4 separate regions of the Homo sapiens genome follow, and regions 2, 3 and 4 are each linked to region 1. Evidence: fine-mapped expression QTL. A gene starts in region 1. Each other region holds a variant in brackets. All regions are shown on one strand. Distances are between the middles of the regions.

Region 1 (2,702 bases):
GTAGGAGGATTGCTTGAACCCAGGAGATCGAGGCTGCAGTGAGCTATGATTATGCCACTGCACTCCTGCCTGGGTGACAAAGTGAGACCCTGTCTCAACAACAACAACAAAAAAAGAAAGAAAGAAAGAAAGAGAGAGAGACAGAGAAAAGAAAGAAAGAAAGAAAGAAAGAAGGAAGGAAAGAAAGAAAGGAAGGAAGGAAGGAAGGAAGGAAGGAAGGAAGGAAGGAAGGAAGGAAGGAGAGATGGGTCCCATTCCCTGAATGCCTCTCAAGTCATCCAAGCCCCTCTGCAGATACCAACCTGGGTCACCGCCAGACACCAGGCCAGAGTTAATGTTACTGTTCAGAAACCCAAGCTGGGCCATTTGGTGATGCCGGGGACATCGGAAAGTGGACTGAGGCTTTGGGGTCAAACAGGGCTTGTTTTTTCAAATCCCAGCTCTCCCACTGGGCACTGGGTATCCACAGGCACAGGCTTCTTCTCTCTGGCCCTCAGTTTCCGTGCCTGTAAAATGAGGGTGGTAGGGAAGATTTGGGGAGGTTCCTTCTCTTTGGGGTTTGGAGTTACACAAGAAGGAGTTTGATGCTGCCAGCCCTGGCTGGGCACAGCTCCAGGACCTAGAAATAAGGGGTGGAGCAAGGGGCACAGGGTAGGAGGAATTTCGGGTACGCAGCCAGCCCTGGCCATCTCCTTTGCCTACAGGGCGGTGAGACTCACAATGAGTGCATGAATGAGCTGTGAGCGGGCAGATGAACCAGGAGAGATGCCCTGAGCCTAGGCCTCTCCAGCCTGCGACTCCCCAGGTGGCCAGCCTCGGCCAACTTGCATACCCAGGCTGGGCCAGGCCCCTGGGAGGCCAGAAAACATCTTCCTTCCAGCATCTATCAGACGAAGATCACCTGGGACCAACCCCAGGACCTCACACAACCCTCAGAGCCAACTCTCGGGGCCAGAAGAACACCGTCTTTTCATAGAGGGGCTCTGCGTCTGGCATGGATGGGCAGAGGGTTCCTGATAGCAGTTGAACCACAAGCCTAACCCCATCGGTTGAATGTACTACAACCTCCCCGTCAAGACAACGTGCAGTGGTGAAATCTCAGGGCGAATCCCCATTCAGCCCCAAAGAGGCGTCCCAGGGCGGGGCTTGAACCCATCTGGGATGTCCTGACTACCAGAGGGGTCTTTTGGAGGCCCCCTGCCCATCACAGATACCCAGAGAAAAGGATGCGCCTAGGACTCCGAGGCGCACACAGAAAAAAAAAAAAAGAAAACAACTCACAAATGCAGCAAACGTCGGGGACACACCCACGTGCCCCTCTCCCCACGAGTGCCCCGGGCATGCAGCCCCGTCCTGGGTCCTGGGGGGGTCCCCGTGGCCGGCTGCGCCCCGCCCGCCGCCGCGCGCAGACCTTCGCCCTTGCCCCGCCAGCACCGAACCGCGCGAGCCTCGGGTTCCAGCGCAGCGCCGCGGCCGCGCTCAGGTTACAGCCCTCACCACGCGCGCACTCACCCGCGGGTCTCAGCCTCCTGCCCTCGATCCGGATCCACCGGCGCCACTACCTGGGATCTGACCGCGCCGTCCCACGGCCCAACCCTTTAACCCCGCCCGGCCGTGCCGAGGGGTCCGCCCCCGGACATCCCGCCCCGGGCTCCCGCAGGGTTCTGGGCGGGGACTCCAGCGCTGCCCCCTAGAAAAGGAGAGAACAAGAAATAGGCGTGTGGAGGGGTGGAGAGCGATGGAAAGAGAGAGAGACTGAGACTGAGATGGAGAGATGAAGAGAGACAGAGACTTGGACACCTAGAAGTCCCAAACCATCAGGCTCCCCGCCCTCCTGCCACTGCTGGGCCGCATTAGCGCCCAAGTCCCGCTCTGGACCACACTCCTCCCACACCAACACCCCCCATGGCCCTTACTTCCAGGTTTGCTCCCAAGCTTGGACAGCGATCTCTAAACCATCACCCCCTGGGGCCCCACTGACCCCCCCGAGAAGCCTCCTCTGGGGCCCTCAGGAATTCTCTGGCTCCACCAGCCCTTGGGAACCAGCCCTTCCCCTCTCTCTGGATCCTGGGCCTAAGCTTCCCCGGCACCCACCCCTGGAGGCTCTGCAGCCTCTTCCTCCAGGAAGACCTCCAACCTCAACAAGCAGCACCAGACTGGTTCTGCTCCCCGCCAACCCGCCCTCCGCCACTCCTCCCCACCCACTGCCAGACACCTTGACCCTCTGACCAGGATGTTGTCCTTGGCCAACCCGTCTACTCCAGATGTGTGGAGACAGAGTCAGCTCCGCCTCTGGATGTGTCTGTCCTCCGGAGTCGGTGGGTGGATGTGTGGCTGACCTTAGCACGTGGGCAGACAGATGAGAAGACAAGAATCTCCACTTGCCCCAGCAGGTGGTAAACTTAGAAGACTTCCTTATCCCTCTTTTTTCTAAGAATACGCTCTCATTTGGTGCTGGGCCCTTGGAAAGAGGGCGTGGGAGGTGTGGGGCATGTCTCCTGGTGAAGAAGAGGAGACACAAGTAATTGAAGTTTTGCTGCTTGGAGGAGGCAGACATGAGGTCAGGGAAGGCGACGTGGAGGATGTGACACTTGAGCTGGGACTGCATGGAGAGGTTGGATTTCAACAAGTGCAGGAGAGGGGGTAGAGCTCAAGCACAGAGAAACTGGAGGGTGTGACTTAGCAGATGGCTTTCCCTGGCC
Region 2 (2,702 bases), 21 kb before region 1:
GGCATTGAGAGGGAATAGCTGTGGAAGGGGAAGATGGCAGCTTCTTTCACAGCTCCTGGGTGGCAGCCCTGGAGATGGTCCCCAGATGCGTGTTTGTAGAGGCAAAGCTGGGACAGAGATCCTAAAATTCCTGGAATCTCCCACTTTTTTTTTTTTTTTAAGAGACTAAGCCTTGCTCTGTCACCCAGGCTGGAGTACAGCAGTGGTGCAATCATAGCTCACTGCAGCCTCCATCTGCTGGGCTCAAGCAATCCTCTCACCTCAGCCTCCTGAGTAGCTGGGACTGCAGGCATGCACCACAACACCCAGCTAATATTTTTAAATGCTTTTGTACAGATGGGGTCTTGCTAGATTACCCAGGCTGGTCTTAAACTCCTGAGCTCAAGTGATCCTCCCATCTCAGCCACCCAAGTAGCCGAGACTACAGGTGCACATCACTGCCACTGGGTAATTATTTATTTTTTTCGAGAGACAGGGTCTTGCTGTGTTGCCCAGGCTAGTCTCAAACTCCTGGCCTCAAGCAACCCTCCTGCCTCAGCTTCCCAAAGTGTTGGGATTACAGATGTGAACCACCATGCCTGACCTACTGGAGCTCATTGGTTCATTTGAGAGTGAGTTCTCTCAGATGTCCCGATACCTCTGGAGGTGCCCAGGTAATATGGTTTGGCTGTGTCCCATCTAAATTTCATTTTGAATTATAATTCCGATAATCCCTATGTGTCATGCGAGGGATCCGGTGGGGGGTAATTGAATCATGGGGGCGGTTACCCCCATGTTGCTGTTCCCATGATAGTGAATGAGTTCTCACGAGATTTAACGAATTTCCCCCTTTTACTTGGCACTTCTCCTTCCTGCTGCCATGTGAAGAAGGACGTGTTTGCTTCCCCTTCCGCCATGATTGTAAGTTTTCTGAGGCCTCCCCAGCCCTGCGGAACTGTGAGTCAATTAAACCTCTTTCCTTTATAAATTACCCAGTCTAGGGTAGTCCTTCATAGCAGCGTGAGAACTGACTAATACACCAGGTACACAAGGCCACACTGAGGATCCAGAGTCCCGCTCATGAGGAAGATAGAGCTGGACACAGACATACCCAGGTCCAAAGGGTTAGGACTGAGAATAGGTCTGTCTGGGAAGCCAGGGAAAGATTCCTGGAGGAGGCGGCCATTGGAGCTGGGTGTTGAAGGCTGAGCAAGAGCTTGCCAAGCAGACTTGGAAGTCTCACATCTTGGGATAGGTGTGGACTGCACGAGGAAGAAGGAATTCTTCCACATCTCCCTCCCTGCCAGTCAGAGTCAGCCCAAGTGATGACAGCAGGCTGCAGGCTGAGTCACCAAGAGTCCTGGCCATAATGGGAATGTCAGAACCAAATGATGGGCGTGCCA[C/T]GGCCAGGGATTGAGTAACACTTACTTAACAAAACCATAAGGAACAACTGCCTATCCAAACGTGCCTGGCTCTGACTGCCAGATGGATGGACATTCCCTCGAAGTTTCTGGAACTCTTAGTCATTGCCACATCTTTGCCCATACTGTTCTCACAATCTGGATTGCCATGCTTGCTTTGCCAAACTCTTATTCATCCTTCAAAGCCCTATTCAAATGACCCTTCCTCTGGATATCCCACCTGCCTAGAATCTCAGATAGGCTCTGGGAGTTGAGGACTCAACCATAGATCGGAGGCCCAGCCCACGTACCTGAGGCTCCCAAAAGGGGTTTGATGTAATCAGGGTGCACCAGAACCAACAGCGGCAGGACAGGTCCCATCCATACCAAGAGTACATGGTGCATGTTGTCCAGTACCTTCTTCTCATCTTGAAGGCCCGCCTCATTTGGAAGGTACTGCAAGAGGTAAGGGAGGAGCAATGAGGAGGTACCCAGCCCCAGCTTCCCCCACTGCCTTCCTCCTGCCACCTCCTGTAGTCTCAAAACAAGCCCAATAGTGCTACATTATGATTTCAGGCAGTTGGCTGCACCTCCCTGGGCCTCCATTTCCTCATCTGAAAAAATGGAGGAGAATCAACTCTCCCTCTGAGGGCAGTAGAAAGGATTCATGAAATAACAAAGCAAGAGCCCCAGCATGGGCCTGACCCATGGCTGATGTTCAATAGCTAAAAATAGTAGCCAAGTGTAGTGGCTCACATCTGTAATCCCAGCACTTCAGGAGGCCAAGGCAAGCAGATCACCTGAGGTCAGGAGTTCGAGACCAGGCTGGACAACATGGTGAAAGGCCATCTCTACTAAAAATACAAAAATTAGCTGGGCTTGGTGGTGGGCGCCTGTAATCCCAGCTACTCAGGAGACTGAGACAGGAGAATCGCTTGAACCCAGGAGGCAGAGGTTGCAGTGAGCCGAGATCATGCCATTGCACTCCAGCCTGGACGACAAGAGCAAAACTCCACCTCAAAAAAAAAAAATAAAATAAAATAAGAAGATAAAATTAGCCAGGCTTGGTGGGACATGCCTGTAGTCACAGCTACTCATGAGGCTGAGGCAGGAGGACCACCTGAGCTTGGGATGTCAAGGCTGCAGTGAGCTATGATCACCCCACTGCACTCCAACCTGGGTGACAGAGCAAGACCCTGTCTCTTAAAAAATAAAAATAAAAATAGTAATGATAAACACAATAATGATCATGGTTGGCATTTATCAAGTACTTGCTATGTGAGTAATAAGATATTACTACTGTTGCTATCTTTACCACATACA
Region 3 (2,702 bases), 30 kb before region 1:
GCCCTATATTAACTCTATTTTTAAATTCATTTATTTATTTTTTTAGATAGGGTCTTGCTCTGTCACCTAGGCTGCAGTACAGTGGCACAATCATAGCTCACTGCAGCCTTGAACTCGTGAGCTCAAGTGATCCTCCAGCCTTGGCCTCCCAAAGTGCTGGGTTACAGGTCTGAGCCACCACACCCAGTCTCGGGTATATTTTTGAACAGGCCCAAAGAGGGATAAAGACTTTCAACATAGGCATAGTCATTGTAGCATCACTAAAACTAAATGGTTACACTCCTCAGCATGGGAGAAAATATTTGCAAATTGTCTATCTGATAAGGGATTGGTACCTAAAATAAATAAAGAATTCTTAAAACTTATTTTAAAATGGGCAATGGATATGAATAGGCATTTCTCCAAAGAAGACAGAAATTTCCAATGAGAATGTGAAAAGATACTTAACAGCACTGGTCACCAGAGAAATGCAAATCAAAACCACAATGAGATACTACTTCACCCCACTAAGGTGACTAAAATCAAAACTTATAATAACAAGTGTTGGGCTGCACTCCAGCCTGAGCAACAGAGCAATATCCTATCTCTAAAAAGCAAACAAAACAACAACAACAAAAAAAAGCAAGTGTTAGTGAGTATGTGGAAAAACTGGAGCTCTCATACATCACTGGTTGGGAGAGCAAAATGGTACAACCACTTCATACCATGTTGAAACCCACTGAAATAAAGTTTAGCAGTTCCTCAAAATGTTTAAAATGGAATTACCGTATGACCCAGCAATTCTGCTCCTAGGTATATAGCCAAAAGAATTAAAAATGTATGTTCACACAAAACTTTGTGCATGAATGTTAATAGCAGCATTATTCATAAAGGTCGAAAAGTGGAAACAGTGTCCATCGATGGGTGACTGGATAAACAAAATGTGGTATTATGTGGTAAATGGAACATTATTCATCAATGAAAAGAAATACATAACTGATACATGC[C/T]ACAATATGGATGAGCCTTTAAAACATTATGCTGGGTGAAACAAGCCAGACACAAAAGTCTGTATGATTCCATCCGTGTGAAATATCCATAACAGGCAAATCTATAGAGATAGAAAATAGATTAGTGATTGCCTAGACTTGAAGGAGAAAGGGAAGTGCACGGGTTGCTAAAGTGTATGAAGTTTCTTGGGGTGGGGGAGGATTGATGAAAATATTCTAAAATTGATTATAGTAATGGTTGCACAACTCTGAATATACTAAAAGCAGTTCAGGTGTATTCTTTAAATGAGTAAATGGTATAGTATGTGAATTGTGTCTCAACAAAGCCATTATTTTTTAAAAACTAACAGGTGAAGCAGGCTTGAAGGGAGCTGTCCTCAGTCCTGAAGTGGGCTTGTTTTCATGCACTTATTGCAGTCTGTCGTTTTCTTGTTTGTTTACTTGTTCATGGTTATTACCTGTCTTCCTACTAAAATGGAAGCTCTAGAAAAGCAACATCTTGTCTTTCTTGTTGAATATGGTGTTCCCAGCACCTAGTTCAGGGTTGGCACTTACTAGGCACTCAGTAAATATTTCTTGGATGAATTAATTATTTAATTTCTAAGACAATCTCTGCCTTATCCAACTGGAACGTGCCCCTATAATGCCTAGAGTAACGAAGTCATTAGCTTGTTACTGAGGACCTACTATGTGTTGCAAGTTTTGCATTAATTATCTCCCTTATTCCTTATGTCCCCACTTAGACTATAAACTTCACAGAACTGTGACTGTCTGTTGTTCACCACCCTGTTCTCAGCAGCAATATCATGGTGCCAGGCACGTAGTAGGTGCACAATGAATATTTGATGAATGAATGAATTAATGAAGCAAGGCATTGGTTATTTGATTCATTTACTCAACAAATATTCTCTGAGCATCAACTATGTGCCAGGGCAGTGCTGCATCATTTTATCCTTAAAGCATCTCTCAGAAAGTAAGAGATTGTCATCCTTTTTTTACAAACAAGGAAACTGAGCCTCAGAAAGTGGGGAGGACACTGTCCAAAGACCACATACTCTTCCTAGTGGAATGAAAAAATACTAACATTTACTAAGCACCTACTTTATACCAAGCCATTGATTCACATTATCTCATTTAATTCTCACACAATGACTATGGGGAAGGAATTATGATGCCCATTTTTTTGATTAAAAAAAAAAGTGAAGCTCAGAGAGATGGTCAGTTTCCCGGAAGCACATGGCCCATCCGTGGCAGAGCTCCCATAGGCCAGAGTTGTCTAATGCCTGGGAGTTCCCTTTCTCCTGCCACCATCTTGCTCCTAGAGCAGCTGGCTCCATCTTCCCAAGAAGGGTCACACTCACTCTTGGCAGTTGCTGTTGTAGCTGAAGACACATTTCTGAAGACTGTCCAGGGTCATGAGGCTGATATGCTCAAACATATCAAGGGAGACCGCTGAGCCCTCTGCCAGATGCCGCCATTTAGCCTGGAAGAGAGATACATGGTGACTGTGCATGGAAACCACAGAGAGGGAGTCAGCCTAACAAGGACCCGACTGCGTTTTCACTACAAGCTCATTTTATAGATAAAGTCAGTGAGGGCTCCTGACATCACATGGCTTGCCCATGCATGAGTTGGAGCCTGGACCAGCCTCACTCCCAAGACACCCTCTTCCCTCAAAGCCTTAGGACTCACATGCATAATGTCAGCGCTCTGGTT
Region 4 (2,621 bases), 25 kb after region 1:
AGGTCAGGAGTTTGACACCAGCCTGGCCAACATGGTGAATCCCTATCTCTACTAAAAATACAAAAAATTAGGCCAGGCACAGTGGCTCACGCCTGTAATCCCAGCACTTTGGGAGGCCGAGTCGAGTGGATCACGAGGTCAGGAGATTGAGACCATCCTGGCTAACACGGTGAAACCCTGTCTTTACTAAAAAAAAAAAAAAAAAAAAAAATACAAAAAATTAGCCGGGTATAGTGGTGGGCGCCTGTAGTCCCAGCTACTCGGGAGGCTGAGGCAAGAGCATGGCATGAACCAGGGAGGCGGAGCTTGCAGTGAGTGGAGATGGCGCCACTGCACTCCAGCCTGGACGACAGAGCGAGACTCCGTCTCAAAAAAAAAAAAAATAGCCAGGTGTGGTGGCACATGCCTGTAATCCCAGCTACTCAGGAGGCTGAGTCAGGAGAATCGCTTGAACCCAGGAGGCAGAGGTTGCAGTGAGCCGAGATCATGTCATTGCACTTCAGCTTGGTCAACAAGAGCAAAACTCCGTCTGAAAAAAAAAAAAGGCAGCCAGCAGCTATCAGGGCTGCTCTGCCTATGGAGCAGTCATTCTTTATTCCTTCACTTTCCTAATAAACTTGCTTTCACTTTACTCTGTGGACTCACCCTGAATTCTTTCTTGCGCGAGATCCAAGAACCCTCTCTTGGGGTCTGGATCGGGACCCCATTCCTGTAACAGTAGTAGCGAGCGGGGTCTTCATTATTAGCATCATTAGTGCCACCATAGTGAACGCTGTCGACTCTGACGTTGAGCCCAAGCCCAGCCCTGCCCCAAGTTCCTTCTCCTCTGGCCTCATCCCAGCCTTGCTTAAGATCTAGGGCCAGAGGCTCTGCCTATCTGTGCCAATGCTACAACTCATGAGAGCCGGCCCTGCTCCATAATCAGTGGCTACTCTTGTGACCCCTCTAGTCTCTCTGCAGCCTGGAGGGGCCTTGATTTTTTTTTTTTTTTTTTTTTTTGAGACAGAGTTTTGCTTTTGTTGCCCAGGATGGAGTGCAATGGCGCGATCTCAGCTCACCGCAACCTCTGCCTCCCGGGTTCAAGCAATTCTCCTGTCTCAGCCTCCTGAGTAGCTGGGATTACAGGTGCATGCCACCACACCAGCTAATTTTTGTATTTTTAGTAGAGACGGGGTTTCATCATATTGGTCAGGCTGGTCTTGAACTCCTGACCTCAGGTGATCTGCCCGCCTTGGCCTCCCAAAGTGCTGGGATTACAGGCGTGAGCCACCGCACCCGGCCAAGGGGCCTTGATTTATC[T/CT]GACAAGTGGGCCTCCTGAGGTTGAAGGAAACCTGGGGTAGAGGTGATTCATTGTGGGATTTCCAGCCTTCTTTCTGCCTCCCAGGCCCAGCCCAGCCCTGATGCATTGGTGTGTGAGTGCCTGAATGTGGGTGTACATGTGTGTGTTTCAGATCCTGACCCCAAACTGGCCCCACATCATTCATCAGGCTTTTTGTGCATTTAGCAATCCCTCCCTGACACTCACTTGGTCTTGAGTCTGTGCTGGGCACTTCTGGACAGCCCCAAAAACTCAGCATCTCCTAGATTTGGGGAGACAAAACTGGACAAAGAACCTTCCAGCACTGTAAGCACAGCCTAGGTTGAAGGGAAGAACAGCAGGTCAGGGAGCTGGGAGGAGTAAGGGGAGCAAGGGGTAACCACAGAGGCTCCCTGGAGGAAGGGTCCTGCCCCAGAAGGTCACAAATCCTACATAGACCCTAAGGAAAGAGCCTGCCATCCATGACATGCCCCTGGCTTAAAACAAGGCAGTCTCTGCCCCAACTCCAAGCTTTAAAGGGAAATCAGGTGGGGTGCAGTGGCTCACGCCTGTCATCCCAACACTTTGGGAGGCCAAGGCAGGTGGATTACCTGGGGTCATGAGTTCAAGACCAGTTTAGCCAATGTGGTAAAACTCCATCTCCACTAAAAATAGAAAACTTAGCTAGCCTTGGTGGTGCATGCCTGTAGTCCCAGCTACTCTGGAGGCTGAGGCGAGGGAATCACCTGAACCTGGGAAAAAAGAAGAGTTACTAAGAAAATCGTATGGAAGAGGAAGTATGTTTACTATTCATTAAGTAGAAGTGTGTCATCATAAAGGTCTTCATCTTCATCGTCTTCATGTTGAATAGGCTGAGGGGGAGGAAGGGAAGGGGTTGGTCTTGCTGTCTGAGGGGTGGCAGAGGTGGAAGAGGTGGAGGAGGTGGAAGGGGAGAGAGGAGAGGCAGACACACTCCATGTAACTTATTGGAAAAAATCCACGAGCCAGGTGCAGTGGCTCATGCCTGTAATCCCAGCACTTTGGGAGGCTGAGGTGGATGGATCACCTGAGGTCAGGAGTTCGAGATCAGCCTGCCCAACATGGTGAAACCCCATCTCTACTAAAAATACAAAAATTATCCGGGCATAGTGGCAGGTACCTGTAATCCCAGCTACTCAGGAGGCTGAGGCAGGAGAATCGCTTGAACCCAGGAGATGGAAGCTGCAGTGAGCTGAGATTACGCCACTGTACTCCAGCCTGGGGGACAGAATGAGACTCTGCCAGAAAGAAAGAGAAAAAGAGAAAGAAAGAGAAGAAAGAGAAA

The links. PIP is the estimated chance that this variant, and not a neighbour inherited with it, causes the effect. A credible set is the group of variants that fine-mapping cannot tell apart.
Region 2: its variant is the best candidate, but not a certain one, in a credible set for the expression of CYP4F22 in esophagus mucosa (GTEx, PIP 0.83).
Region 3: its variant is the best candidate, but not a certain one, in a credible set for the expression of CYP4F22 in whole blood (TOPMed, PIP 0.77).
Region 4: its variant is the best candidate, but not a certain one, in a credible set for the expression of CYP4F22 in monocytes (TOPMed, PIP 0.53).

The regions. Positions count from the first base shown.
Region 1 is chr19:15,507,394-15,510,095 of GRCh38, reverse strand. It overlaps CYP4F22 (cytochrome P450 family 4 subfamily F member 22), which reads right to left and starts at 1,571. Exons shown (of 14, transcript NM_173483.4): 1 at 1,513-1,571. RefSeq lists an enhancer at 1,427-1,927.
Region 2 is chr19:15,528,842-15,531,543 of GRCh38, reverse strand. CYP4F22 (cytochrome P450 family 4 subfamily F member 22) reads right to left here. Exons shown (of 14, transcript NM_173483.4): 4 at 1,691-1,835. Among named protein-coding and RNA genes, the nearest start is that of CYP4F22, 22 kb to the right of the region's middle. The variant C/T (reference allele first, on the strand shown) is at 1,383.
Region 3 is chr19:15,537,639-15,540,340 of GRCh38, reverse strand. It overlaps CYP4F22 (cytochrome P450 family 4 subfamily F member 22), which reads right to left. Exons shown (of 14, transcript NM_173483.4): 6 at 2,679-2,702; 7 at 2,348-2,469. Among named protein-coding and RNA genes, the nearest start is that of CYP4F22, 30 kb to the right of the region's middle. RefSeq lists a silencer at 1,236-1,436. The variant C/T (reference allele first, on the strand shown) is at 987.
Region 4 is chr19:15,482,668-15,485,288 of GRCh38, reverse strand. No RefSeq gene overlaps it. Among named protein-coding and RNA genes, the nearest start is that of PGLYRP2, 4.5 kb to the right of the region's middle. The variant T/CT (reference allele first, on the strand shown) is at 1,300.